Homo sapiens: one gene and its partner. The protein of the gene in region 1 interacts with the protein of each later gene in a pairwise test. Each region holds a gene or a part of one and is shown on either strand. Other genes may lie near its edges. The genes, in order: CDHR3 and CCT8.

Region 1 (3,826 bases):
TCTCAGCCTCAAAGGTTGGGAAGCAAGATAGCAGCACAGCATCGTTTTAAGATCTACCCCATCTGGTATGCATAGAGGCAGGGTAGGAACACGGCATAACTGCTCCTGGGGAGGAAATGCATAACTCCAAAACCACACTCAACTTCTAGGAAGTGTGCATTTCACCAACAGCCTTCAGTGAAGGCAAAGCAAGATTTACAGGGCCACAAGAGGAACCTTGTCCCACAAAGTGGCTTTGTGGGTCCACCAGACATTCTAATATCTGGCCAACAACTTTAGTGCTTTTGTCAGTCACCCGCAAACTTGGGCCTCAAAAAAATATGGGGCTGGGTGCAGTGGCTCACGCCTATAATCCTAGCACTTTGAGAGGCTGAGGCGAGTGGATTACTTGAGGTCAGGAGTTCGAGACCAGCCTGGCCAACATGGAGAAACCCGTCTCTACTAAAAATACAAAAATTAGCTGCGCACGGTGGTGCACACTTGCAATCCCAGCTACTTGAGAGGCTGAGGCACGAGAATCGCTTAAGCCCAGGAGGTGGAAGTTGCAGTGAGCCAAGGTTACACCACTGTACTCCATCCTGGGCAACAGAGCGAGACCCTGCCTCAAAAACGAAAAAAGAAAAATGTGGATCTTTATTTCCCAGGGCACCTTTACTTGTTTCTCACCACATCCGCAGGATGTACCCTGGGAAGTTTCCTCATTGCCACATCCACACTCTGGGGGTGCCAGAGAGACCCTAAGTCAACCAGTTGGGTTACCGGCACTATACCAAGCAGCACCACTCACAGTGACAGAGCTTGTGTCTTCGTTGTTGGTGGCCTGGATTCTGAGAATATAGATGGGGGTTGTTTCACAGTCCACTTTAGTTACCAGCTGGAGTTCTCCTGTCTTGGGATTAATCCAAAATACATTTGGATACTGGAGGCTGGCCCCTCCAGTGGAGATGGAGTACAGGAGGCTGCTCTGGGGGAGGTCTTTATCAGTGGCTCGCACCTGTCCCACTCGGGTTCTGGCTGGAGGAATAAAGTACCTGCAATAAGTCCTGCTTTTAAGGGGTAGAGAAGGATGATTCAGGAACAGATGTCCTAACTGCCATGGTAAGAAGGACTTCTGGAGGCCTCCTTGCTGTCCAAACTCTGTTTTATAGCTTCAATTCTACTAAATTGAAATAATGCTAACCAACACCCGCTAGGTAACTGACCCTATGATCCAAGCAGTCCTGTGAGGTGTAATAGACAATTTATATCTTTGTGTGTGTGTGTGTGTGTGTGTGTGTGTGTGTGTGTGTGTGTGTCTGTGTGTGACGGAGTCTCACTCTGTCGCCCAGGCTGGAGTGCAGTGGTGCGATCTCGGCTCATTGCAACCTCCACTTCCTGGGTTCAAGCAATTCTCCTGCCTCAGCCTCCCAAGTAGCTGGGATTACAGGTGCCCACGACCACACCTGGCTAATCTTTTTGTATTTTTAGAAGAGATGGGGTTTCACCATGTCGGCCAGGCTGGTTTCGATCTCCTGACCTCAAGTGATCCGCCCAGCTCGGCCTCCCAAAGTGCTAGGATTATAGTCGTCAGCCACCATGCCCAGCAATTTATGCCTTTATATAGGCTCCAGGGACACTAATCATTTTGCTATCAGAAACAATAGTACAAAGAACATACAACCTCACACATACATCTCTTTGCAGCAGTATTGTCTAAAAGTCCCGTGTTTTTCAATTTTCTATAATGAGCATGAATTGCTCTTTTAAAAATAAATAATTGTTAAAGAATTTAGTAATTGATGATTACAGATTATAGATTTTTAAATCCTCTTCCATTTTGCAATTTTTACAAATATTGTTGGTGGGTCTGCTAGCATTCTGGCTTGTTTTGTAGGAGTTCCTTCTCATAAATTACACTCCTCAAGGGCAGAACCTTCTCTTTTTCAATTCTGTATCCCAGCACTAAGTTTGTAACCCAAAGTAGGTGATCAAAAAGAACTGCAGTAAGATCTGTGAATTCCCAGAAAGCCTATTCCTTTCGAATTTGTTATTCACTGGATAAGGTATAAGAAATTAAAAGCATTTTCTTTGGACTTGCATTTTGCATTTTGCTTGAAAACTTAATGTCAGGAAATGGAGACCATCCTAAAGAGAATGGATCATTTTAGAGGGAGCGTTTTGGTTTTGGTTTCATTTGTTGTTGTTGTTTTTAATATGGAAAAAGTATCCATGATCTAAAGATGAACGGCTGTGGGGAGTCTATTACACTAGAGCATTTATAGTATTACCTTCAAACTGAGAGAGCGAGAGGGAGGCAGAAAGTGAAGCTGGAAGTGGGGAGTGAGTCTTTTCCTTAAAGGGGGAGGAGCCTGCAAAAAGCAGGGTGTTGTAAAGGGCAGAAAAGAAGGCCTTCAGGGAATCTTAGTAGGGGAGAGAGAAAATGCCTTTATTTTGTTTGTAAATGAAGGAAATATAGAAATGGGAAACCTTTTCTGTTTTTAAATTTTAATTCTCTGAGTGAGCTGGATAAAACTCACAGTGGAGACCAAGAGAAAACTTAAACCTGGAAAAGGGAGGATTAGCGGAATCAGGCAAACAGGCAAGGAAGCAATCAGAGGCTTCTGAGAAATGCAGTTTAACCAACAGTTTTCAAAAGTCCAAGTTTCACCTGAAGGGCTCCTCAGCAGCGAGGAAAATTTAAAAGAAATAAGAGGTGCAATAAATACTAATCAGCTGTGAATCACTGTGCAAAACAGCATGCGAGGCCTCCAGAAGGGAGTTTTCCACTCCACAGAACACACGTTTGGATGGAGTCCATTGACAGCACTCTGGTCTGTGTCTTATCTGTTACTTACCGGGCCTTCTTTCTGACACATCAAATACATAGGATGGCCTATCAAAAATGAGAGGAAACTCATTTTCTGGGCTTGTTAGGATATAAACGTAGACGTTATCTAAAAATGGAAATAGAAACACATTTAATCACAAATCCATACTCATCCATTTGTTTATTCAACATCTTTAAAGAATCTCCTGTGTACAGGCTTTGCGCATAGGGGATACCAGGTGGCTAAGACATGGGAGCTCCTGCCTTTTAGATGCCGAGGGTGTTCACCCTTTGATAAGCGCATGAGCACACAGAGCACTACAGAACCCAGAGTAGGAACAGCTTCCAGGAGAATGAACAAGCTGAGCCTTATAAGGATAGAATTAGACAAATGGGGCAGGGAGGAGATTGGGGGGTGTTGTAGGCATATGCAAAAATGCCAAGGTATAAAACCACATAATTCACTCTGGAAAACTTCAAGCTGTTTGCCCAGTTGGAAAAAAATGGGGGCTTGGAAGCAAGTGACAGGAGGTGAAGCTGGAGAATTAAGCAGCAACCGAATGGTGAAAAATCTTGTATGCCAAGTCAAAGAGTTGGAACTTGAACTTGACAGCTACAGGAGATGCTCGAAGGCTTTAACCAAGGAAGTCATATGATGGCATTTGCATTTCCCTTCAAAGACTCTTAAGTGTTGTAATTCAGCCGAGAAAGAGGGGGTCCCCGCATGAGGGCAGTACTAGTGAGAAGGGGGACCTAGCACAATACCTAGTATTGCCCAGCAGAGTTTGGTCATTGATACTCAAGAAAGACAATCATGAAATAAAACAAAATGATACTTGCTTTTATAGTAAGGGGGGGCCACATCCTGCACCTGGATTATCACCGTATATTTATTGCCGGCTGCTAGGTTACTTGGATTTTCGTAGTCTAGATCACCAATCAGCTAGATTAAAACAGAGATAGTAGATTATACAGATTAAACAATCCTATTTATTGGGCTGCGAGAGACATTTTCATATA
Region 2 (3,826 bases), on another chromosome or scaffold:
GTATCTAGTCATGTTAAAGGTATTTTTATTTTGGATCTTTTCATTTACTGATATTTACTTACCGCATGCCTGAGCAATAAGCTTGGCCAGAAATACTTCATTACCATATTGTTTACTCATTATGGAGGTACGAAGTAGAGATGAGACTTCATCAATATCTCGAAGGTTTTTTGCAGAACAACATACCAAATTAGGAAGAATCTCATGAGCTTTTCTGCAGGCTATTTCATAACCTTCTATGACCTAAAACATAAACAACATTTCCTATTCTGACATGACTTAAAGTAGCTTATTTTGGTAACCCAATGCATATGGATGTTTATTTTTGATACAAAATGACAAAGAATATACTTCGGAATAAAACATATAGTAGACTCTACTAGTTATGAATGGAGGCTTAGATGACAGCCCAAATTTGAATCTTAACTCTACCTAACTCACTAGCTATGAGATCTTGGGCAAGATTTTTCTAATTTTAGTCTCTTTTCTCATCTAAAATAAAGTGGGAAAAAAAATAGATAAAATGGGATTATAAGGCCTCACTAATAGGGTTTTTGTGAGACTAAAATGATACAGCATGTGAAGCATATGTACTATAATGGCTGGTACAGAGCAAACTGCTCAGTGCATGTTAGCTACTACTATAATAATGATTTTAGTTTATGTTTTAAGCAGGTGTATATGTAAGCAAAAATTTAGTAGGAGTAAATTATAAATGAACACTTGCCTCTGAAACTGACAGGCCAATCCTCAGAAGTTCTTCAGCTAATTCCAGGAGAGCTCCAGCAAATACCAGAACAAAGTTTGTGCCATCTCCAACTTCTTGCTCTTGCATATGAGAAGCCATTACAATCATTTTTGCAGCAGGATGCTGTACCTAGTAGAAAAGGTAATATCAAGTTAAACATCTGATCCTTAAAGCAACATAAAATTGTTCATTTCCATTTCTTAAATAGACTCAATTTTCTTGTAGATTAGGTAACTCCATCTGATCACACTGCTACACTGCTATACGCTACTTATAGTGTGGTCACAAGAAAAAATCCAAGTCCCTTTATGCCGATCAGCACAAATGTATCACTATAAATAAGAATTTCAAAGTGCATCCTCTTTTGGTGGCCTGCACATACAGTGCCACACATATGTTTCACCATATCATATTTCACTAAATTAAAAAACAAAGTAATTACAACCACCAAACCTAGATATTTTTTAAAAGCCTTCAGGAGAACTAAAATAGATACCACTTAACTTGGTCATGACTCTCAATATCTATTTTACTATATATTCTTGTTGTAAGGGTTATCATTTGTGATTTAAAGAAAAGGGGGAGTATAAAACTTTTCTTCAAATATAACATAATTTTATGTGGATTTTATTCTTAGGATTTAATTTTAGATACCTTTACAGAAACAAGCCAAGGAGTAAGAACTGAGAGCAACAAGAAAACTATAAAAAGTCAGCCCTGTGATTTTATTATTTTGACGGTATCACCACTGTACTTTAATAACTCCTGAGATCATCAGTGTGCAACATTAACATTCACAGTGACAAACCCTTGTACAAGTGTTTTGTGGAGTTAAAATTTAACTTTTAACTTAAGTTCTTTAAGAATTTATATATATAATATGTATTTTTTTTTCTTTTTTGAGATGGAGTCTTGCTCTGTCGCCCAGGCTGGAGTGCAGTGGCGCGATCTTGGCTCATTGCAACCTCCGCCTCCCAGGTTCAAGCAATTCTCCTGCCCTAGCCTACTGAGTAGCTGGAACTACAGGTGTGTGCCACCACGCCCGGCTGATTTTGTTTCTGTATTTTTAGTAGAGATGGGGTTTCACCATGTTGGCCAGGCTAGTCTCAAACTCCTGACCTTAGGTGATCCGCCTGCCTTGACCTCCCAAAGTGGTGGGATTACAGGCGTGAGCCACCGCGTCCAACCAAAAATATATTATTTAAGAGGTTAGAAAAATGTTGATTCTTCTATCGTTTCATTTAAAACAAAAGATTAAGTTCTAGTGCTTTCAAGGGCTAAGCTTCAGGAAAATTCCCTGAGGTTGAATATGTTATCCTTTAATTACAAGGCGGGAATGAGGAATGGCTCTCTCTGCCTGTTCAGGTGCCAGACCTTCCTTATAACCCTGCTGGCAGGCAGTATCTATTTTATAGATTCTAATAGTAAAACTAAAGCTGAACAAAGTAAAATGCCATCAACTGATTGTTTTTATTTTCACAAAACCAAATGGTTGGATCTTTTTAAAAACCACTGTTATATGTATACGTTTTTGCACTGTGGAATAATTCACTTCAGAGTCACCCTATAGAATGAAGACAATGGTAATCAATTTCATATCGTAATTAGCAATGTATCACAACCAATCCCTCCATAAATTAATAACTTGAGAGATTTTTAAGATTTCAGTGGCTAAAACATTCAATCTAAAGAGGACTCTTTATAATTAGAACAATCTGTACAATAAATTTTCAAGCTGGAAAAATAGTCCCTTATCCAATCTGAAATAAGAGATTTCTTCTAGTTAAAATCTACTTAATTTTGATGTCACCAAAATATTTCTTGACTTTTTAAAGAAACAACTTACTTCTAGTTCTCTTAAAATAGTTGCTGCATCGTTTGTCACAAACAACTTCTCCAAGTGGTTGATAACCATTTTGTTCATTCCTCAAAAGTAACAGTTAAAAAAAGAAAAAGAAAGCCATTATTAATCAAATCCTTCCCCAAATACCCAGGAAAATCTAGTTAAGAAATTATAAATTTGTATATTAAAAAAAGAGCTTTGCAAGAAAACACATACTATCTATTCTTCAAGTTTATCTTATAGCCCCATGGGCATTCTCTGACTGCAGACCCATATTCTTTCTTCCCTTTCTAATGTCCTACAATATTTACTACGTAAGATGCCAAATCTCACATTTTTGCCAATTTCTATCTTCTGTTTGCAACATGACTGTCATGCAGCAAGTGCTCAACAGAAATTAACATGTAAAAAGGCCAAAATAATCTACTTAGTATATTTAGTTGTATGTTTATTCCATGAAACTGTATCATTTAAATTTAATTGGTGGTAGAAGGCAAGAGGAAGGAGAGAATTTTCTTCCTTAAACTATGTCACTTTTATATTTAGTGTTTGTCAGAATGAACATTAGGTACTATCTTACTAGTCAAAGTGTTATAATTTTTCTATCCTCTCAACAGGATAAAAAGTAATATATTGACCCCCATTTTTCTAAAGAGATGTGAGTTGATTGAAAATTAGAAATAACTAAAAATTGGAAATGAACTATCATTGAGCTATCAAATTAACTTCCGAAGTCATACCATAACATCCTCAGAACAAGTCTGAAAGAAGACGTAGTACACAATATTCTACTACTGTATCTTTACAAATATTAATTTAGAAATTACCATTTGGTCCATATGCTGTACGAGTGGTTTGGGCAAGCTCCTTGCAAGCTTGTATGTTTCTATACACAGCCTCTTCTAATCCTGAAAAGTGCTGTTAAAAAAAACAAACAAAAAACCCCGCTAATTAGACAGGACAGTGAAACAAAAATTTCAAATACAAGATATCTTTGCTTATATCTTGCCTCTAATAAAGAGGGAGCATAGCTTAGGTATTTGGCACAAGAGGGCTGGTTGCAAATCTTAGCTTTCTGGCTCTTTTTAAATTTGGGCAATTTTCTTAACATTTCTTCATTATAAAATGAAGTAATTATAATAGTACCTAACTCATAGGATTGTTGAGACAATCAAACAAGATTTTTTAATGTAAAACACAGCATTTGATATTCATAAATGATGCATACATTTCCT

Evidence for each region.
Region 2: the proteins of CDHR3 (region 1) and CCT8 interact in binary tests that used the Homo sapiens proteins (3 or more experiments, as listed by UniProt).

What each region holds. Positions count from the first base shown.
Region 1 is NC_000007.14:106,015,034-106,018,859, reverse strand, and holds part of CDHR3 (cadherin-related family member 3 isoform 1 precursor), read right to left. Parts: intron 3,750-3,826; coding exon 3,647-3,749; intron 2,934-3,646; coding exon 2,835-2,933; intron 1,015-2,834; coding exon 788-1,014; intron 1-787. UniProt on the Homo sapiens protein: Cadherins are calcium-dependent cell adhesion proteins.
Region 2 is NC_000021.9:29,066,829-29,070,654, forward strand, and holds part of CCT8 (T-complex protein 1 subunit theta), read right to left. Parts: intron 3,510-3,826; coding exon 3,419-3,509; intron 2,675-3,418; coding exon 2,595-2,674; intron 878-2,594; coding exon 728-877; intron 244-727; coding exon 63-243; intron 1-62. UniProt on the Homo sapiens protein: Component of the chaperonin-containing T-complex (TRiC), a molecular chaperone complex that assists the folding of actin, tubulin and other proteins upon ATP hydrolysis.